3 linked regions of the Homo sapiens genome follow. The protein of the gene in region 1 purifies or fractionates together with the protein of each later gene. This does not show direct contact. Each region holds a gene or a part of one and is shown on either strand. Other genes may lie near its edges.

What was found. Proteins that work in one complex are often made in the same cells at the same time.
Region 2: the proteins of SLC25A41 (region 1) and AP2A1 purify together in Homo sapiens (affinity purification with mass spectrometry; 3 studies listed by BioGRID and IntAct, with this or other methods). This does not show direct contact.
Region 3: the proteins of SLC25A41 (region 1) and CEP131 purify together in Homo sapiens (affinity purification with mass spectrometry; 3 studies listed by BioGRID and IntAct, with this or other methods). This does not show direct contact.

Annotation. Positions count from the first base shown.
Region 1 is NC_000019.10:6,430,744-6,438,364, reverse strand, and holds the start of SLC25A41 (mitochondrial carrier protein SCaMC-3L), read left to right. Parts: upstream 1-4,601; 5' UTR 4,602-4,671; coding exon 4,672-4,878; intron 4,879-6,160; coding exon 6,161-6,316; intron 6,317-7,621. Other genes in the region: mitochondrial adenyl nucleotide antiporter SLC25A23, read left to right, coding at 1,901-2,045. UniProt on the Homo sapiens protein: Calcium-independent ATP-Mg/Pi exchanger that catalyzes the electroneutral exchange of Mg-ATP or free ADP against an hydrogenphosphate and participates in the net transport of adenine nucleotides across the mitochondria inner membrane.
Region 2 is NC_000019.10:49,769,991-49,777,012, forward strand, and holds part of AP2A1 (AP-2 complex subunit alpha-1), read left to right. Parts: intron 1-7,022.
Region 3 is NC_000017.11:81,219,954-81,227,422, forward strand, and holds the start of CEP131 (centrosomal protein of 131 kDa), read right to left. Parts: upstream 3,013-7,469; 5' UTR 2,816-3,012; exon of another isoform or gene 2,693-2,815; intron 121-2,692; 5' UTR 104-120; coding exon 1-103. UniProt on the Homo sapiens protein: Component of centriolar satellites contributing to the building of a complex and dynamic network required to regulate cilia/flagellum formation.

The DNA.
Region 1 (7,621 bases):
TCCCTTATGTGTGTCTGTGTCTCTCTGCCCAAATTTCCATCCTTTTTTTCAGATGCAGTTTCGCTCTGTTTCCCAGGCTGGAGTGCAATGACGTGATCTCAGCTCACTGCAACCTCCGCTTCCCGGGTTCAAGTGATCCTCCTGCCTCAGCCTCCAGAATAGCTGGGATTACAGGTGCACACCACCACAACTGGCTAATTTTTGCATTTTTAGTAGAGACGGGGTTTCACTATGCTGGTCTTGAACTCCTGACCTCAAGTGATCCACCCGCCTCGGCCTCCCAAAGTGCAAATTCCAAGTTTGTTTTTTTTTTTTTTTTTGGAGTGCAGTGGCACGATCTCGGCTCACTGCAAGCTCCGCCTCCCGGGTTCATGCCATTCTCTTGCCTCAGCCTCCCAAGTAGCTGGGACTACAGGCACCCGCCACCACAGCCAGCTAATTTTTTTTTTTTTTTGTATTTTTAGTAGAGATGGGGTTTCACCATGTTAGCCAGGATGCCTCCCAAAGTGCTGGGATTATAGGCATGAGCCACCGCGCCCGGCCTTTTTTTTTTTCTGAGATGGAGTCTTGCTCTGTCGCCTAGGCTGGAGTGCACTGGCGCGATCTTGGCTCACTGCAAGCTCCGCCTCCTGGGTTCATGCCATTCTCCTGCCTCAGCCTCCCAAGTAGCTGGGACTACAGGCACCCGCCACCATGCCCAGCTAATTTTTTGTATTTTTAGTAGAGACGGGGTTTCACCATGTTAGCCAGGATGGTCTTGAACTCCTGACCTCGTGATCCGCCTGCCTCAGCCTCCCAAAGTGTTGGGATTACAGGCGTGAGCCACTGCGCCTGGCCGATTCCATGTCTTGTAAGGACAGCAGTCATCGGATTAGGGCAACCCCCCCCAATCCAGTGTAACCTCATTTTAATTTGATTATATCTACAAAGACCGTATTTCCAAATAAGGTCACATTTGCAGGTTACTGGGGTTAGGGCTTGAACACATCTTTTTGGGGGACAAAGTTCAACCCACAATGAGTAATTCAAATTTATTGTGGAAAAAATAGAAAATTCAGGGTGGGTGGGGTAGCTCATATCTGTAAACCCAGCACTTTGGGAGGTCGGGGTGGGAGGATCGCTTGAGGCCAGGAGTTTGAGACCAGCCTGGGCAACACAGTGAGACCCCATTTCTACAAAAAATTTTTCAATTAGCTGGGCATGATGGCATATACCTGTAGTTCCAGCTGCTCAGGAGGCTGAGATGGGAGGATGACTTGAGCTCAGGAGTTCAAGGTCACTTGAGCCCAGGAGTTTGAGACCAGCCTGGCCAACATGGTGAAACCCCGTCTCTACTAAAAATACAAAAATTAGCCGGGCATGGTGTCACATGCCTGTGATCCCAGCTACTCGGAAGGCTGAGGCAGGACAATCACTTGAACCCAGGAGGTGGAGGTTGCAGTGAGCCAAGATTGGTCCATTGCACTCCAGCCTGGGTAACAGAGCAAGACTCCATCTCAAAAAATAAAAAAATAAAAGATTGGGTGCAGTGGCTCACGTCTATAATCCTAGCATTTTGGGAGGCCGAGGCGGGTGAATCACCTGAGGTCAGGAGTTCGAGACCAGCCTGGCCAACATGGCAACCCCGTCTCTACTAGAAGTACAAAAATTAGCCGGACGTGGTGGCGGGCACCTATAATCCCAGCTACTCAGGAGGCTGAGGCAGGAGAATTGCTTGAACCTGGGTGGCAGAGGTTGCAGTGAGTCGAGATTGTGCCACTGCACTCCAGCCTGGGCAACAAGAGCAAAACTATGTCTCAAAGAAAAAAAAAAAAAGACACTGTCGCTGCCATCCTGGTTATTGGTTACATGCTCTCTCTCTCTCTCTCCCCCTTTCTCATAACATTTGCTCTGGAGGAAGCCGGTGGTCATGCCATGAGCAGCCTTATGGAGAGGACCATGTGGTAAGGAACTCAGCCAATAGCCATGTAACTGAGCTTGGAAGAGGATCTTGCTGTCCTGGCCAACATCTCACTGCAATTCTATCAGTTGAATTCCCTGGATAGTCCAAGCTTTGTGGATCCCTCCACCGAAACAACTGGATCCCAGTACCTGAATCCTGAATCTTAGACTCTTATACTTCAAACACTGATCACGGGAACAGCCGGCTCAGCGGCTCCTGAGTTCCTAATGCTCAGAATATGGGTGAGATGATAAATGTTTGTTGTGTTAAGCTGCCAACCTTTGGCGGGGGGGTAATTCGTCACATGGCAACAGCTGGCTAATACATATATACCTACATGTATATGATTTTGTCAGGTTTTTTGTTTGTTTGTTTGTTTGGTTTCGGTTTTGGTTTTTGAAACAGGGTTTCACTCTGTCCCCTCCCCAGGCTGGAATGCAGGGGTGCAATCATGGCTCACTGCAGCTTCAAACTCCCAGGCTCAGGTGATGCTCCCATCTCAGCCTCCGGAGTAGCTGGGACCACAGGCACACACCACCATGCCTGACTACTTTTTTTGTTTTTTAGAGACTGGGTCTTACTCTGTCACCCAGGCTGGAGTGCAGTGGCACAATCATAGCTCACTGCAGCCTCTAATTCCTGTGCTCAAGGGAGCCTCCCCCTTCAGCCTCCCAAGTAGCTGGGACTACAGGTGCACATGACCACACCTGGCTAATTTTAAAAAATTTTTGTAGAAAAATTTCTTGCTTTGCTGCCCAGGCTGGTCTTGAACTCCTGGACTCAAGTGATCCTCCCGCCTCAGCCTCCTGAGTAGCTGGGATTACAGGTATGCACCACCACACCCAGCTAATTTTCGTTATTTTTAGTAGACACGGGGTTTTATCATGTTGGCCAGGCTGGTCTCAAACTCCTGACCTCAGGTGATCCACCTGCCTTGGCCTCCCAAAGTGCTAGAATTACAGGTGTGAGCCACCACGCCCAGCCAAAAATAATTTTTAAAACTTAGCCGGGCGTGGTGTCCGCACCTGTGTTCCTAGCCACTCGGGTGGCTGAAGTGGGAGAACCACCTGAACAGAGAGGTCAAGGGGATTGACCTTAAGTGTGCCACTATACTCCAGCCTGGGTGACAGAGTGAGACCATTTCCCATCAGCTGTTTAGCAACCTTAATTCTTTTTTTTTTTTTCTTTTTTTTTTTTTTGAGACAGGGTCTCGCTCTGTCACCCAGGCTGGAGTTCAGTGGCAAGATCTCAGCTCACTGCAGCCTCCACCTCCCAAGCTCAAGCAACCCTCCCACCTCAGCCTCCTGTGTAGCTGGGACCACAGGCATGGACCACCATGCCCAGCTAATTTTTGTATTTTTTATAGAGACAGGGGTCTGGCCATGTTGCCCAGGGTGGTCTTGAACTCCTGGGCTCAAGTGATCCACCTGCCTTGACCTCCCAAAGTGCTGCTATTATAGGAATGAGCCACGGCGCCCAGCCTAGCAAAGTTTTGTTGTTGTTGTTGTTTGTTTGAGATGGAGTCTCGCTCTGTTGCCCAGGCTGCAGTGCAATGGCTCAATCTCGGCCCACTGCAACCTCTGTCTCCTGGGTTCAAGCAATTCTCCTGTCTCAGCCTCCAGAGTAGCTGAGATTACAGGGGCACACCACCAAACCTGGCTAATTTTTGTATTTTTAGGAGAGACTGGGTTTCACTATGTTAGTCAGGCTGGTCTCGAACTCCTGACCTCAGATGATCTGCCAACCTCGGCCTCCCAAAGTGCTGGGATTACAGGCGTCAGCCACCACATCAGGCCTAGCAACCTTATTTGTATCTGCAAACTTAATTCCCCTTTGCCATGTAACAAATGTAAGTCAGCCCAGGCTGCTATAAGGAAACACTAAAGAGCGGGGTCTTAAACTGCAGACATTTATTTCTGGAGGCTGGGAAATCCAAGGTTAAGGTGGCTGGCTAGCTCAGTTCCTGCTGAGGGATTTCTTCCTGCCATGCCTTCTTGCTGCGTCCTCCCATGGCAGACAGAGAGAGAGAAAGAGCTCTGGTTTGTCTTTTCCTTATAGGGAACTAATTCCATCTTGCAGGGGCCATCCTCATGAGTTCATCTAACCCTGAGGACCTCCCAAAGGCCCTGTCTCCAAATTCCAACCCACTGGGAAATAGGGCTTCAACATAAGAATTTTGCGGCCGGAAGCAGTGGCTCACGCCTGTAATCCCAGCACTTTGGGAGGCTGAGGTGGGCAGATCATGAGGTCAGGAGATCGAGACCATCCTGGCTAACACGGTGAAACCCCGTCTCTACTAAAAAATAAAAAAATTAGCTGGGCGTGGTGGCGGATGCCTGTAGTCCCAGCTACTCGGGAGGCTGAGGCAGGAGAATGGTGTGAACCCCAGAGGCGGAGCTTGCAGTGAGCCAAGATAGCGCCACTGCACTCCAGCCTGGGAGACTGAGCGAGACTCCGTCTCAAAAAAAACGATAATAATAATAATTTTGACAGGACACAATTCAATTTATAACGATAACATATTTATTGGTTTGGGGGATCAGGAGGTGGATACTTGGGGGAAGGGGGCCATCACGCTGCCCACCACACCTAGGAAGGTCACAGGGGCGTTTGTGACTTCATCCTCCTCTTGGTCCCCCACACAATCCTCCCACTAGACACTCCCGCATGGTAGCTGGAGCAGCAAACAACTGCTTAGGGATTTGAAGCCAGGTGTCCTAACTTCCTCCATGGGCGCTCAGCCTGGGGAACCTCAGAACACTTGCTCTAGGATCCAGACACTGTTTAGGAGGGTCAAGACCTTACTCATCAAAGCCCCGCCTCCCCCCCAACCTCCGCCTCCACCCCCATCCTGGAACCCTGGCTGTACACACGTGTATGGGTACGCGTTTGGCCACATGCATGACAACAACCTTGAACATCTCCCGTCACAGCAGGTGAGTTTAGGAAACACCAGTGTCCCGGCACCTCTGGTCAGGACTACAGGGAGAGGCCAGGCTACCCACGCCCTCTACAGGCCCACTCCCCTGCTAGCGGACCTAGAATTCCACCTTGAAGCAGGGTGGGGCAGGGAGGCAGGGCGCGATGGCTCCACACATGTAATCCCAGCACTTTGGGAGGTTGAGGTGGATGGGTCACTTGAGGACAGGAGTTCAAGACCAACCTGGCCAACATGCCGAAACCCTATCTCTACTAAAATTACAAAACTTAGCCAGGCATGGTGGTTGGCGCCTGTAGTACCAGCTACTCAGGAGGCTGAGGCAGGAGAATCGCTTGAACTCAGGAGGTAGAGGTTGCAGTGAGCCCAGATCTCATCACTGCACTCAAGCCAGAGCAACACAGCGAGATTCTGTCTCAAAAAATAAGAATAAATTAAGAGTCTAGATATAGTCCTAATTACATTTGTATTCCTCCTTGGATCCTCCATGAGTAACTTAGAGAGTCTATATTACATTGGCTGGGTGTGGTGGCTCACACCTGTAATCCCAGCACTTTGGGAGGCTGAGGCAGGTGGATCACCTGAGGTCAGGAGTTCAAGACCAGCCTGGCCAACATGGTGAAACCCTGCCTCTATTAAAATAATACAAAAATTTGCTCGGCACGTTGGCACTGTAATCCCAGCTACTGGGGAGGCTGAGGCAAGAGAATCACTTGAACCCAGGAGGCGGAGGTTGCAGTGAGCCGAGATCACACCATTGTCCCTACTTGGGAAGCTGAGACACGAGAATCGCTTGAACCAGGGGGACAGCGGTTGCAGTGAGCCAAGATCGCACCACTGTACTCCAGCTTGGGCGATAGAGTGAGACTCTGTCTAAAAAAAAACAAAAACAAAACAAAAAAAAACCAGGGGGGAGGGTTGAATCACTTGAGGTCAGGAGTTAGAGACCAGCCTGGCCAACATAGTGAAACCCATCTCTACTAAAAAAAAAAAAAAAAAAAAAAAAAAAAATTAGGTGTTGTGGTGCATGCCTATAATCCCAGCTACTCAGGAGGCTGCGGCAGGAACTGCTTGAACCTGGGAGGTGGAGGTTGCAACGAGCTGAGATTGTGCCACTGCACTCTAACCTGGGCAGCAGAGCAAGACTCCGTCTCGAAAAAAAAAAATGCAGACTTGGGGGAACAGGGTGGGTCTTTCACCAGGTGGGTGCCCTAGATGTGTGTCTGGGGAAGGTGCCCCAACCTGGCTGAGGATGAGGGAGGGCCGGGTCTGCCCTGCAGGTACTGGACACAGGAGAGCAGCTGATGGTCCCCGTGGAAGTCCTGGAAGTGGATAACAAGGAGGCCTTGTGGAAGTTTCTACTCTCAGGAGCTATGGCCGGGGCGGTGTCTCGCACGGGCACGGCACCTCTGGACAGAGCCAAGGTGTACATGCAGGTTTGTGTGGGTTGGGGGGAGGACGGGACCCAGCGCTGGAGCCACTGGGGAGAACGTGGGGTGAGGACAGATGGAGTTGACGTGGATGGAGTTCAGGATAGGAGTGCTGGCTGGAGTTGGGCTCTCCTGGACTAGCTGAGATTGAGGTTGTGGATGGTGATAGAGCTGGTGTGGACATGGCTTGGAGTCGAGTTTGAGGAGTTGAGAGAACTTGCCAGGGACAGGGACCAACGCTGGGCCAAGGTGGGGGTTGGAGGTCAGGGAATTGGGGATGGGGTCTTTGGACGAGTTTAAAGACAAGGTAGGGGCCAGGTGCAGTGGCTCATGCCTCTAATGCCAGCACTTTGGGAGGCCCAGGGGAGGTAGATCATCTGGGGTCAGGAGTTTGAGACCAGCCTGGCCAACATGGCGAAACCCTGTCTCTACTAAAAATACAAAAAAATTAGTCGGGCATGGTGGTGCGTGCCTGTAGTCCCAGCTACATAGGAGGCTGAGGCAGGAGAATTGCTTGAACCCAGGAGATGGAGGTTGCAGTGAGCCGAGATTGCATCACTGCACTCCAGCCTGGGCAACAGAGTGAGACTCTGTCTCAAAAAAGAAAGAAAAAAAAAAAAGGCAACATAGAACTGGAGCTACCTCAAGCAGGATATCTCACACCCATAGTCTCAGCTGCTCAGGAGGCTGAGGCAGGAGGATTGCTTGAGCCCAGGAGTTGGAGGCTGCAGTGAGCCATGATCATGCCACAAACTCCAGCCTGGGTGACAGAGCGAGATCCCTGGCTGAAAAAATAAACGGGTGCAGTGGCTCACTTTGGGAGGCCAAGGAGGGAGGATTACTTGAGCTTAGGAGTTTGAGACCAGCTGGGCAATATAGTCAGACCACATCTCTACAAAATAATAATTAATTAATTAATTAATTAAAAATTTAAAAAGGAGTCGGGCATGGTGACTCACACCTGTAATCCCAGCACTTTGGGAGGCCAAAGTGGGAAGATCGCTTGAGCCCAAGAGTTTGAGACCAGCCTGGGCAACATAGTAAGACCCCATCTATACAAAAAATTTTACAAAATTAGCCTGCCATGGTAGCACGCACCTGTAGTCCCAGCTACTTGGAAGGCTGAGGTGGGAGGATCACTTGAGCCCAGGAGTTTGGGGCTGCAGTGAGCTGTGATTGCACCACTGCATTCCGGCCTGGGCAACAGAACAAGATCCTGTCTCGAAAACATAAACAAACAAAAAAACAAGAAAGAAAAGGAAAAGAAGGCCAGGCGCGGTGGCTGATGCCTGTAATCCCAGCAATTTGGGG
Region 2 (7,022 bases), about 43 Mb from region 1:
CCCCGGTAGCTGGGATTACAGGCACCCGCCACCACGCTTGGCTAATTTTTGTATTTTTAGTAGACGCAGGGTTTCCCCATGTTGGCCAGGCTGGTCTCGAACTCCCAACCTCAAGTGATCTGCCCGCCTTGGCCTCCCAAAGTGCTGGCATTATAAGCGTGAGCCACTGCACCCAGCCTGGGATACAACTTGAAGGAAAAACTGTCAGGATTTGCAAAGGGATTTGATGATGGGGGTTGGGGAAGGAAAGAGATCGTCCCGTCACTGCAGGACCCCAGAGACGAGCCAGAGGACAGAGGGGAGATGCAGGCTTGGGGCACTGGTAGTAATTTAGCCACAGGAATTAGGGCTGGAGAATCAGGAGCCTTTTCTTAGCAAGCGTATGTTGAACGGCTGGTATGTCTCAAGAATTGTGCTGAATGCTGGGGACACTGGTGAACAGGACAGACTTGTCCACCCCCTCCATGAAGCTCCCAGCCCTGTGGGGGAGAAGGTGCAACATACAAATTGCAGTAGTCCTTCACACTAATACCTGGACACGGATGTTCACTGCAACATTATTCATGATAGCCGGAAAACAGAAACGGGCCAAATGCCCATCAACTGAGAAATAAAGTGTGGTCTATGTAGTGGAATATTACCGGGCCTTAAAAAATAATGACGTCCTGCTACATGCTGCCACAGGGATGGACCTTGAAAACATGACACCAAGTGAAAGAAGCCAGACACAGGAGGCCACGTGTTGTATGATTCCATGTTGATAGAGTATCTTGAATAGGCAGATCCATGGAGACAGAAAGATTAGTGGTTGCCTAGAGTAGGGGCTGGTGGGATGGGGAGTGACTGCTCATGAATGCATAGGTTCTTTTTTTATTTTTTGAGATGGAGTCTCACTCTGTCGCCCAGGCTGGAGTGCAATGGGGTGATCTCGGCTTACTGCAACCTCTGCCTCCCAAGTTCAGGCGATTCTCCTGCCTCAGCTTCCTGAGTAGCTGGGATTACAGGCGTGTGCCACCACACCTGGCTAATTTTTGTACTTTTAGTAGAGACGGGGTTTTTACATGTTGGTCAGGATGGTCTCGAACTCCTGGCCTCAGGTGATCCACTACCCCAGCCTTCCAAAGTGCTAGGATTACAGGTGTGAGCTACCATGCCCGGCAGCATTCAGAGCTTCTTTTGGGTTCATGAAAAAGCCTACAGCTGGACACGGCACATGCTTGTAGTCCCAGCTACTTGGGAGACTGAGGTAGGAGGATCATTTGAACCCAGGAGTTCGAATCCAGCCCGGGCCACATAGTGAAACCTCATCTCTTAAAAAAAAAAAAAAAAAAAAAAAGAAAGGTCCTGGAATTCGATAGTAGTAATGGTTGCACAACATCATGAATGTACTAAAGAACGCTGAATTGTTCACTGTAAAAGGGTCAATTTTATGGTATGTGAATTGTATCTCTTTTTTTTTGTGACAGTCACAAAAATGGCGCGATCTTGGCTCACTGCACCCTCCATTTCCCAGGTTCAAGCGATTCTCCTGCCTCAGCCTCCCGAGTAGCTGGGATTATAGGCGCCCGCCACTATGCCCCGCTGATTTTTGTATTTTTAGTAGAGACAGGGTTTCACCATGTTGGCCAGGCTGGTCTCGAACTCCTGATCTCGAGTGATCTGCCTGCTTCAGCCTCACAAAATGCTGAGATTACAGGTGTGAGCCACCGCGCCTGGCCGTATCTCGATTTTTTTTTAAATGGGGAAAGAATTTGCAGCTGTCCTAAGCCCAGTGAGGAAGAGGGCCATGGTGTTGAGAGAATGGGGATTCTGTGTGGTCAGCGAGCTGCGGCCTGGCTTTGCTTCACAAGAGACCTTTGGAGCTGTGTGGGCAGGAAGTAGGGGAGTTACCTAGGCTGAGGGCAGTGAGAAGAGCTGTGAAGGCAGAGGCGGGGCAAGTGCAAAGGTCCTGACTTCCGGACGCCATGGCGGGCATCTCTATCTAGTCCCAGCTACTCAGGAGGTGGAGGCAGAAGGATTGCTTGAGGCCAGGAATTTGAGACCAGCCTTGGCAACATAGCAAGACCCTGTCTCTCTTTCTTTTTTTTGACAGAGTCTGGCTCTGTCATCCCGGCTGGAGTACAGTGGTGCGATCTCAGCTCGCTGCAACCTCCTCCTCCTGGGATCAAGCTATCCTCCCGCCTCAGCCTCCTAAGTAGCTGGGACTATAGGCACATGCCATCATGCCCAGCAAATTTTTTTGTATTTTTCATAGAGTTTTTTTTTTTTTTTTTTTTTTTTTTTTTTTGAGATGGAGTCTTGCTCTGTCGCCCAGGCTGGAGTGCAGTGGCGCGATCTCCGCTCACTGCAAGCTCCACCTCCCGGGTTCACGGAGATGGGTTTTTATTATGTTGCCCGGGCTGGTCTCAAATTCCTGGGCTCAAGTGATCTGCCTACCTCGGCCTCCCGAAGTGCTGGGATTACAGGAGTGAGGCTCAGTGCCTGGCCCCCTTCTCTATTTTCAAGAATTCTTTTTTTTTTTTGGAAACGGAGTCTCGCTCTGTCCCCCAGGCTGGAGTGCGGTGGTGCGATCTCGGCTCACTGCAAGTTCTGCCTCCCGGGTTCATGCCATTCTCCTGCCTCAGCCTCCCGAGTAGCTGGGACTACAGGCGCCCGCCAACACGCCCGGCTAATTTTTTGTATTTTTTTTTTAGTAGAGATGGGGTTTCACTGTGTTAGCCAGGATGGCCTCAATCTCCTGACCTCGTGATCCGCCCGTCTCGGCCTCCCAAAGTGCTGGGATTACAGGCGTGAGCCACCGCGCCCGGCCCAAGAATTCTTTCTGGAAACAAAAAAAGGCCCTGATGCCCCAGTGAGACCCTGAGAAAAGGGCTGTGTGGCTGGTGCAGAGAGGGATGGGATCTGACGCTGGGGAGTGGGCAGAGGCTAGGTCCGTGTTTGTCCTGAGAGCTCTGGAGAAGGTTTCAAGCAGGAGCGAGGGAAGAGAAGGGCGGAGGGATGCGGAGGAGGAGGTGGGGAGAGGCAGGGCTCAGAGAGCAGCAGAGGGAAGAGTGTGGAGCCAGCCAGCAGGAGGATCTGAAGGGCACAGTGGGGCTATGGGGAAGGGTCTAGAAGGTGAAAGGCAGGCTCTAAGGAGGGCAGGGAGGGCAAATTCTGCAGATAAGGAGGGGGAGAGGTTGAGGCTGGGCCCAGCCCGAGGGCGTGTTCTGTCCTGTCTGCAGCAGGAATACAGCAGAAGTATTATCTCACAGGGAGCAAGGGCTGGGGCTGCCTCCTATCTAGGCAGAGTCTGGCTGGAGTGGGCCTTAGGAGAGTTGGACGAGTGAGCCAATGGGAGCGGGGTGCTGGCTGCACACTGCCCTGAGCTCTTCCATCAGAGCACATCCCACTCCAAATGGTGATCCACTGCAGTGGTGACATCGAGCCCAGGCCCTGGGTCTCACTCCAGCTTTGTCCTCTGTAGGTTCTAGCCCATGGGAGGCCTCAGGAGATGATTGCCAGTTGAATGAATGAATGAATGATGGAACCAGTCTTTCTTGAGTTCCAGCTGGGTGCCAGGCACTGTTCTAGGTGATGGGGCTACAGCAGTGAGCAGAAGTTCCTGCCCTAGGGTGCTCACGTTCTAGAGAGGAGATGGTCCACTACACAGGTGAATATTTTGGGGGCCGGACAGGTGGGAGTAGGTGTTGATGGAAAATGAGGCAAGGAAAGGGCTTGGGGATGGAGTTAAGGATGATGCTCTTATATAGGCTGGTCAGAGAGTGTCGCTGAAAAGGTGGCATTGGAGCAGAGAATCTAACTAAGTGGGGGAATGGTGCATGCATGACTCTGGAAGAGGGAGCTGCCTGTGCAAAGGCCCTGAGGCAGGATTGTGCTTGTAGTGGAGCAGGGACTTAGGAGGAGGAGAGGGCAGCTCCTGCCTTGGAGAGAGAGGACAGGAGAACCGGCCAGAGAGGGAACAGGGTAGATGGTGCAGGCCCTTGTGGGCTGCAGTGAGAACTTTACTTTTACTTCGAACTTGCTGGGAGCCATGGAAGGGGTTTGGAGGAGTGCTGGGGTCTGACTCAAGTTTTCACATGATCCCTCTGGCCTCTGTGAAGAGCACAGGAAGTCAAACAGATTTCAATTTGGTATCCCTTAAGAACGGGACAGATGCAGGCCTGAGCCCCAGCCCCACCCGTTTCCAGCTGGTTATTGTGTGATGGCTTTGGTCCACAAATCCGCATTCAACACCTCCCCTGTGCCAGGCTGCCCTGGGCCCTGGGAACACTGTGGGGACTGAAGCAGCCGTACATCCCTGGCCTCATGGCACTGGTGTTCCGATCCAGGAGGAAATGAACATGCAAACCCTTAATATGTAAGGAGGCAACTCAGGCAGGGTCTTGGTGGCCCAAATAGTTCGCCCTGCTGAGCAGGGGGGCTGACCAGGAGAATGAGAGGGTTTGATTTTGTTATTTACGAAGAATATATTTTCATCACCCAGGAATAGTGATGACCTTGAGAATATGAGTGGTGTAACCCAGCACCAAAATGCAAGCCATATATATGTTGAAATTTTCTTTTTTTTTTCTTTTTTTGAGACGGAGTCTTGCTCTGTCCACGCCCGGCATATGTTGAAATTTTCTTGCCACATTGCAAAAGCAAAACAGGGGCCAGGTATGGTGGCTCACGCCTGTAATCCCAGCACTTTGGGAGGCCGAGGCAGGCGGATCACGAGGTCAGGAGTTTGAGACCAACCTGGCCAACATAGTGAAACTCCGTCTCTACTAAAAATACACAAATTAGCTGGGCCTCGTGGCACACCTGTAGTCCTAGCCACTCGGGAGGCTGAGGCAGGAGAATCGCTTGAACCCAGGAGGTGGAGGTTGCAGTGAGCCGAGATTGTGCCACTGCGCTCCAGCCTGGGTGACAGAGAGAGACTTTGTCTCAAAAAAAAAAAAAAAGCAAAACAGGCTGAGCATGGCAGCTCACGCCTGTAATCCCAGCACTTTGTGGGGCCGAGGCGGGCAGTTTGGTTGAGCCCAGGAGTTTGAGAACAGCCTAGGCAACAAGATCCTGTCTCTCCCCACCACAAAAAAACTTTTAAAATTAGCCACGCATGGTGGCATGCACCTGTAGTCCTAGCTTCTTCGGAGGCTGAGATGGGACGATCGCTTGAGCCCAGGAGGTCGAGGTTGCAATGAGTCAAGATCGCACCACCACACTCCAGCCTGGACAATACAGCAAGACCCTGTCTCCATATATTTTTTAAAAAAGCAAAATAATCAGTGAAATTCATTTTAATATATTTTCTTTACCCTAGTATATCCAAACTATTATTTCAGTGTGTAACCAGTGTTTTTTGAGATGGAGTCTTGCTGTATGGCCCAGGCTGAGTGCAGTGTCAGGATCTCAGCTCACTGCAACCTCTACCTCCCAGGTTCAAGCGATTCTCCTGCCTCAGCCTCCCTAGTAGCTGGGACTACAGGTGTGCACCACCATGCCCGGCTAATTTTTGTATTTTTAGTAGATATGGGATTTTGCCATGTTGGCCAGGCTGGTCCCAAACTCCTGACCTCAAGTGATCCACCTGCCTCGGCCTCCCAAAGTGCTGGGATTACAGGTATGAGCCTGTGTTACCCAGGCTGGTCTCAGATTCCTGGGCTCAAGTGATCTGCCTGTCTCAGCCTCCCAAAGTGCTGGGATTAGAGGCGGGAGGCATTGCACCCAGCCTTCAGAAGGCTTTCTGAGGATTCAGGGCTGCTGGGGCTTGTACAGGAAGCACATCAGGTCTCGGTCTCTGTAGAGGAAATGTCCTTGGTCTAGAAGGCTCTGAAGGCCTTTGCGGTGAGATGCTGGGTGATGCCTGTGTTACCTTCATAAATGCACATTAGTCCCTCCAGGGCAGGGCCCAGGTTTGACAGGATGCCTTTGCTGGTAGTAACAGACCCACCCTGATCTGGGGCTTACATGTTTAGGGAAGGCGTTATCTCCCCTAACCAGAAGCTCCAAGGTAAGGCAGCTCCCTGGCCCCGTCAGCACTTCCCTTGACTCTGCCTTACTCTGCCTGGAGCAAGATGTTGGCCGCCTTCGCACCCGAACACCCCTCACGGCAACAGCCACTGGACGGAGCACGGCCTGCCCCTCCCATGGCCCCCCCCAGCACCTCAGAAAACTCTGGAGAGGCTGCGTGGTCTGGCCCCACCTGCTGTGCTCTTCTCCACCCGCCCCCGCCGCCGCCCGCATCCTCAGACTCTGTGCCTCTTTCATCACCGTCCGCCTGCCTTGCCTCATGCTGTCCTACCTCCAGGCCATTGCACCTGCTGGTCCTCCTGCCTGGAGCGCGCCTCCCCTTGTTTCTGCCTGGTCCATTTCAGCCTCATCTTTTGATCCTCAGATCCCAGCAGCTGTGTGCAGAGAAGCCTTCCCCGTCCCCTGCGCCATTCTCATTTTAGCCTCTCAGCCCCGAAATGTGTATACCTCTTTCAGAATACTTGCCACTGTCCCTGTCTGCCACCACTCCAATCCAGGGATGCCTCGAGAGCAGGGTAGATGTGACTCATCCTTAAGCCTGGCCCCAGAAATCCCATTGTGAATGAGAGAATCCCTTTAAAACTCTCTCACAGGCTTGCTTGCCTCCTGTGACAGTGAGCTCATTCCCCCTGTTGCTGGCCCTGAATGCCGGGTCATTCTTCCCATGATCCTGGTCTGTCAGAGCTGCCTCAGCCCTTTCCCCAGGCACCACCCCAGTAGCACCCATACAGTATCCCTGGGCTCCCTGGCCATCACGGGCCTTTAGATCTTTGCAGAGCTGGGCCTCTGCCAGAGCCCTCCCTTTGGGGCCACAACTGCTCCTGTTTTGAAGACCGAGAGCTTTTCTTCTCTCTCTGAATTCCTTTTTTTATAGCAAATTATACCAGTTATGCAGAAGATAGCATCAAATAGATGTGGACCATTTAAAGCCTATTTAAAGGCCAGGTGCAGTGGCTCATGCCTGTAATCCTAGCACTTTACTTTGGGAGGCTGAGGCGGGTGGATCACTT
Region 3 (7,469 bases), on another chromosome or scaffold:
TGCCAGGACGCCGGGACACAGGCGGAGGGAGACCTGTCAGACTCAGGTCCACACCTGCTGGGCTGCGCTCCGGGACGCTGCCGATGGCCCGGGTGCCTTTCATGGTGGACAAGGCAGGTCCTGAGCGGGGAAGCAAGAGCTGCAATGAGATGCCGTGGGGGAACTACAGTCCCCTGCACCCACCATCTCCAGCCCAGCCTCAGCTGGGTCCACTGGCCACCAAACTTCCTGGGAAGGCCTGTCACAACCTATGCACCCCTCTGGCTGGTGGCAGGCTCCTCGACAGGAACATGAGGGAGCTGTTCTGAGCCCAATGTCAGTGTATGCCAGGGCAGGAGGGCCCTGGATGATGGACAGGTGGGTGGCGAGGGCAAGGCCCGTGGGTGGGAATAAGCCAGCAGCACCCCAGAGGGAGCCTGGGCCACAGGCCATTGTCGATGTGAGCCAGGTTCTGCCATCTACCCCACACCGTGATTCTGAGAAAGTCACTGCCCCGAGCCCCACTGTTTTCTTCTGTAAAAGGGACATTTGATTTATTTTTTATTTTATTATGTTTTTGAAACAGAGTCTCGTTCTTGTCACCCAGGCTGGAGTGCAGTGGCGCGATCTCGGCTCATTGCCACCTCTGCCTCCCGGGTTCAAGCGATTCTCCTGCCTCAGCCTCCTGAGTAGCTGGGATTACAGGTGCCCGCCACCACGCCTGGCTAATTTTTGTATTTTTAGTAGAAGTAGAAACGGGGTTTTGCCATGTTGGCCAGGCTGGTCTCGAACTCCTGACCTCAGGTGATTCGCCTGCCTCGGCCTCCCAAAGTGCTGGGATTACAGGCATGAGCCACCGTACCCGGCCCCTAAGTAAAAATACACATTTTAAAAAGGGGTTGCGTGTTGGCCGGGCACAGTGGCTCACTCCTGTAATCCCAGCACTTTGGGAGACCAAGGCAGGCAGATTGCCTGAGCTCAGGAGTTCAAGACCAGCCTAAGCAACACAGTGAAACCCCACCTCTACTAAAAACTTCAAAAAATTAGCCGGGCGTGGTGGCGAGCGCCTGTAATCCCAACTACTTGGGAGGCTGAAGCAGGGGAATTACTTGAACCTGGTAGGCGGAGTTTACAGTGAGCCAAGATCGTGACACTGCACTCCAGCCTGGGCAACATAGCGAGACTCCATCTCAAAAAAAAAAAAAAAAAAAAAACGCGGGAGTGGTTTTGTGAGGTCCAGACAAGATGCTGGTCTCAAGGCCTCAAGGCTGCACCGGGCAAACACTCCCTGGGTAATGTGTTATTCCAGCAGGGGACGGGGGTTCTGACGATCGATCGAGGGGATTAGCTTGGGGATGCTGGCTTCCTTACTTTGGAACTTCTCAGAGCAAACCCTGCCGGCCCCCAGCCCGTCCCCACATGGCACCTCTTTCTGAACGAGTCTTTCTGATCTTTCTGAACGGGTCTCAGCTCGTGCATGTGCCCCTGCCAAAAACCCTGCAACAGCTTCCTAGGCACAGAGAATAAAGTCTACACATCCAACTCCTGCAAGATCTGGCCCTGTACTCTCTGTGACCTCGCCAGCTCCCCTGCTGTGCCCCTTTGTTGTGGCTTTAGCCAACACAGCCTCCCTGGTTCTCCTCAAACTCAGCCAGCTTGGCCCCGGCCAGTCCCCTGCCTCTAGGTCTCAGGACACTCCCTCCCTGCACTCAGAGGCCTTCCTTGAGCACCCATCACTCTTCACTCCCCATCCGGCTCGGACTCCCTTCCTGTGGCCGCACACAGTTGGTTTATGAATTGTGTGGCTCCTGAGCAACCCCAGCACCTGCAGGGAAAGGCACTCAGCTGAACCCGTAGATGAACGGGAGAAGCTGGCGCCAGGGACCAACCTCGAGAATTACCTCCCTGCCACGGTGGCCTCCAGTAGGCCAGCAGGCACCCAGCCTATCGCCCAAGGTCACCCTGGGCTTCCTTCAGCCCGGCACCCCACAGCAGGTCCCCCAAGGTCCCTTCCACGGAGCGATGGATACCCCTACTCCCTAGAGGCTGACCCTGCCACTGACCAGGTCCCAGTCCTCAGTTATGCACTTCCGGCTGTGCGGAAGAAACTTAACACCCTCCTCCTGCAGGGCACTGTCCACCCCTGGCTGGACCCATGCAAGCCCTTGGAGCCCAGGACTCTGCTCTCCCAGCCACACTTGCAAGCGGCTCTGGGATGGCGAACGGGGCCTCTCCATGGAAACCTCCAAGCCAGAAGAAGGGAGGCCTGGGAGGCCACTACATCTTGGATAAAACTGTGTCCCTCCCAGGACCTGAAGGGGCGGGGACTGATGACCAGCGCCAGGACCTGGTTCCCAGGGTGGGCTGACCCTGACCCTGACCCTGACCCTGGACAGAGAGGCCAGAGCCCACGCGCAGAGCAGAGCCCTCCACTTGTCCTCAGGGCAGCTCCCATCTCCCCATTTTCCCCAGGGCTTAAGGCAGCCGGGCCAGAGATGCCGGGACTGGACTCCATGTTGTCCTGGGGACCGGAGGGGAGTGGAGGGAGGTGGAGAGGGTGGAGGGGATGGAGGTGGGGACCCACACCCTCAGGCACGAGCCTGTCTTCACCTGCGCGGGCCCCGGACCTCCCTCACCTGTGCGCACCCTGGATCCCCCTCACTTCCCCCGGATCCCGCCTTCAATTGCGCGGGCACCAGATCCCCCCACTCACCTGTGCGTGCCCCGGATCCCCATCACTTCATCACTGGACCAGGGCCTCCCACCTGCGCGGGCTCCGGACCCCTCCAACCTCCGTGCGCCCTGCAACCCCCTCCCTTGCCCGGGCCCCCCTCACCTGCGCGGGCCGGGGGCGCAGCCGCGAAGCCTGCCTGGCGCGCGGGGCCTGCAGATTCGGCCGGCGGGGAGGGGATGCGGAACCAGTCGCGCCCAAACCTCGGGTCGGCGACCTGGCGCCCCGCCACCCCCAACACTGCCCCGAGGCCCGGTGACAATGAAGCGGCCGGACGGCCGGGGTGAGCAGCGGCGGCAGCTAGCAACCAGCCTGGCACCACCTCCCCAGCCCGTCACGCCGGCCCGCCTTTCCTGCGCGCGCCGACTCCGGATTGGCCCTTCACGCTCCCGCTCAGGCCGTCCCGGGAGCTCATTGGGCCGCTCGGCTGTCCTTCGGGAAGTTCAAGCGTGGGAGGAGCGGCGGATGGCTGAGGGACGCGACTACAGAGAGCGGCCGATTGGACGCGGCTGGAAAGGGGCGGGTCATATAGGGGGCGGGGGACCGAGGGCGGCGGGAGGAGCTGGCCGGGCAGGGGCGGGGCCCCAGCGGTTGTGGGCGGGGCGTGAGGTGGGGGTGTGATGGGCGAGTAGGGCGAGGCAGATGTGGGCGGGGCAAGGCAGGTGTGGGCGGGGCACGCAGGGCCTGGGGAGGAGACACCAGGGAGGGCGCGAGGAGCACGCGGCCTCGGCTCGGCTCCCCGACACCCCCAGGCCGCCGCACTCCCGCGGCCCGGGGCTCCCCCAGTGTCCTAGGCCGCTCTGTCCCCACCCACGTGCGCGACTCCCCTCGTTACTCAGTACGACTGCGAGGGCGTGTGGGCGCCTTGCTAACCTCCCTGACCTCCTTCCCTTCGCGCTGCTTTGTTGTTTTTTTTCCTTCTCCAAAGTTTTAACGCTGCGCCCCGTGCGTAGCCGCTCTGTGACTCCCCCTCTCTCCGGGAGCCCTGGGGATTCCGCCCAGGTCCTCTCCAGGGAAGCCATCCTTCCCCTAAAAGTCACAGCACACTGGTCTCCCCTGCCCCCGCTTTTTAAAAAGTCCAGTGCTCTGTAAAATAAAAAGTTTGGTTTCAGTAAAATCCACATTTTTTGGTGTGCAGTGGAGTTGTGTAACTTTAGTTACAGAACATTCTCCCTCCGGATCCCGTACCTGCTGACTGCTGGTGGCGGCTGCTCAGTTCTCTCTGTTCTCCATCCCTAGAGGCAGCCTTTTCCAGAATGTCACACAAAAGGGATGTCGCGCAGCGCGCCTGTGGGTCTGGCTTCTACCACTTCGCATTTTGAGATTCATGCTGGTTCCTCTTTATTGCTGAGTGGTATCCTGTAACCGGTGTGAACCACCGGTTCAGATGGTTTTATTTATTGATGGTTTTATTCATCAAATGAAGGACGCAGAGATTGTTCCTGGTGCTTGGCAATTATGAATGACGCTGCCATAAACATTCACTCATCGGCTTCTGTGTGGACACAACTTTTCATTTCTCTTGTGTAAATACCCAGGAGTGGGGTTGCTGGATCAAATGATTGTTTATAAGAAACTGCCGGCCGGGCGCAGTGGGTCCCACCTGTAATTCCAGAACTTTGGGACACTGAGGTGGGCGGATCACCTGAGGTCAGGAGTTCGAGATCACCCTGGCCAACATGGCAAAACCCCGTCTCTAGTAAAAATACAAAAAAATTACCCGTGCCTGGTGGCGTCTGCCTATAATCCCAGCTACTCAGGAGGCTGAGTCAGGAGAATCGCTTGACCCCAGGAGGCAGAGATTGCGGTGAGCGGAGATCACCACTGCACTCCAGCCTGAGCGACAGAGCAAGACTCCATCTCAAAAAAAAGAAAAAGAAAAAAAAAAGGAAACCGCCAAGCTATTTTCTTTTTCTTTTTTTTCCTTTTTTTTCCGAGATGGAGTCTCCCTCTGTCGCCCAGGCTGGAGTGCAATGGCATGATCTTGGCTCACTGCAAACTCCACTTCCTGGGCTCAAGCAATTCTCCTGCCTCAGCCTCCCGAGTAGCTGGTATTACAGGCACATGTCACCATGCCAGGCTAATTTTTGTATTTTTAGTAGAGACAGGGTTTTGTCATATTGGCCAGGCTGGTCTTGAACTGCTGACTTCAGGTGATCCACCCACCTCGGTCTCCCAAAGTGCTGGGATTACAGGCGTGGGCCACCACATCGGCCTACTAAGCTATTTTCCAAAGAAGTTGTACAGCTCTACGCTCCCACCAGTGCCACAGGTGTTGCAGTTGCTCCCCATCCTCCTCAGCTCTTGGTATTGTCAGGGATTGGTTTTATTTGTTTACTTATTTATTTATTTATTTATTATTATTTTTTTGAAACAGAGTCTCGCATTTTTGCCCAGGCTGGAGCATAGTGGCGCGATCTCAGCTCACTGCAAGCTCCGCCTCCCGGGTTCACGCCATTCTTCTGCCTCAGCCTCCCGAGTAGCTGGGACTACAGGTGCCCGCCACCACGCCTGGCTAATTTTTTTGTATTTTCAGTAGAGACGGGGTTTCACCGTGTTAGCCAGGATGGTCTCGATCTCCTGACCTCGTGATCCGCCCGCCTTGGCCTCCCAAAGTGCTGGGATTACAGGCGTGAGCCACCGCGCCCGGCCTACCACATTGTCTTGATTAGTGTTTTTGTTGTTGTTGTTGTTGCAGAGATGGGGTCTCACATGTTGCCCAGGCTAGTCTCAAATTCCTAGGCTCAAGCAATTCTCCCACCTTCACCTCCCAAAGTGCTGGGATTACAGGCATGAGCCACTGCACCTGGCCTAGAGTCAATCCTGAAATCAGGTTTTGAGTCCTTTGTTCTTCTTTCTCCAAATTACCTAGGCTATCCAAATTCTTTTGACTTTTCCTATAAATTTGAGTTTCAGCTTGTCACTATCTTAAAAAATATCCAGCTGTGATTTTGATGGGGATTACATTAAATCTGTAGACCTGTAACCTGGAAGAATTGACACCAGAATTTATGAACATGGTATATCTCTCCACTTATTTAGATCTTCATTGATTTCTTTCATCAGTACTTTGAAGTTTTCAGCATACACATCCTACATATATCTTTCTAATTTATACCTAATCATTTCATTTTTGGAGTGCCATTACAGATGGTAGTTTTTTATGGTTTAATTTCCAATTGTTTATTGCTATTACAAAAGTGTAACTGATGTTAGTATATTTACCCTGGAGCCTGTGTCTTTGCTAAACTCACTTCTTAGTCTTAGGAAGTTTTTGGTAGATTTCACGGGATTTTCTACAATCCTGTTTTCTGTGAATAGTATGTTTTATTTCTTCCTTTCTAATGTGTCTGGCTTTCTAGTTTTTTCTTGCTTTATCGAACTGGCCAGGGCTTCAGTGTAATGCTGAACAGAAATGGTTAGCATGCACACCATGGCCTTCTTTCCAATCATAGGGGAAAAGCATTCAGTCCTTCAGCATTAAGTATGATGTCAGCTGAGGGGTTTTTGCAGAAACCCCTTGCCACCCAAAAGATCTCTTACATTTCTAATTTGTCAAATTTGGGAGGGTTTTTGGGTCATGAGTGAATGTTGAATTTGTTTCTTGTTTTTTCTGCATAAAATGATCATGTGATTTTTCTTTACTGTTAATATGATGGATTGAATTACACTGATTTTCATAGGTTGAAACAGCCTTGCATTCCTGGGATATATTCCACTTATAGTGATGTATTACACTTTTTATATATTACTGGATTCATTTTGTTGTTTTCTTGAGGAATTTTGCATCTATATTCCAGAAGGATATTGATCTCTAGTTTTCTAGACCAAGTGTACATGGAACATCCACCAAGATAAACTATATTCTTGGCCATAAAACAAACTTTAACAAAAGTTTGAAATCCTTAACAAAAGTGTGAGGCCAGGCACAGCAGCTCATGCCTGTCATCCTAATACTTTGGGAGATTGAGGTGGGAGAATTGCATGAGGCCAGGAGTTGGAGACCAGCGTGGGCAACATAGCAAGAGCTCCATCTCTACCAAAGAAAAAAAAGGCCATGTGTGGTGACTGAGGCATGAGGATTGCTTAGGACTGCTTGAACTCAGGAGGTTGAGACTGCAGTGAGCTGTGATTGCACCACTGCACTAGGTGACAGAGCTAGAGTGCAGTGGCACAATCATGGCTCACTGCAGCCTTGACCTCTGGAGTTCAAGCAATCCTCCCGCCTCAGCCACCTGGGTAGCTGCGACCATGCCTGGCTAATTTAAATTTTTTTTTTTTTTTTTTTTGTAGAAACGGGGTCTTGCTATGTTGCCTAGGCTTGAAATCTTTAAACAATATAACAGAAATCATATAAAATATGTTCTCTGACTATATCAGAATTAAATCATAACACAATATGCTTTAAAATAACCCATTGGACAAAACGGAAGTCTCAAGATAAATTTGAAAATATTTTGAGCTGAATAACAATTTAAATGTACCAAAATTCATAGGATGCAGCCAAAGCAGTGTTCACAGGAATGTTTATAGCATTACAAGGCTCACATTAGAAAATAAAGGACATGATAAATAATCTAAGCTTCCACCTTAAGAAACTGAAAAAGGCTGGGCGCTGTGGCTCATGTTTGTAATCCCAGTGCTTTGGGAGGCCGAGGAGGGTGGATCACAAGGTCAGGAGATCGAGACCATCCTGGCTAACATGGTGAAACCCAATCTCTACCAAAATACAAAACATTAGCCGGGCATGGTGGCATGA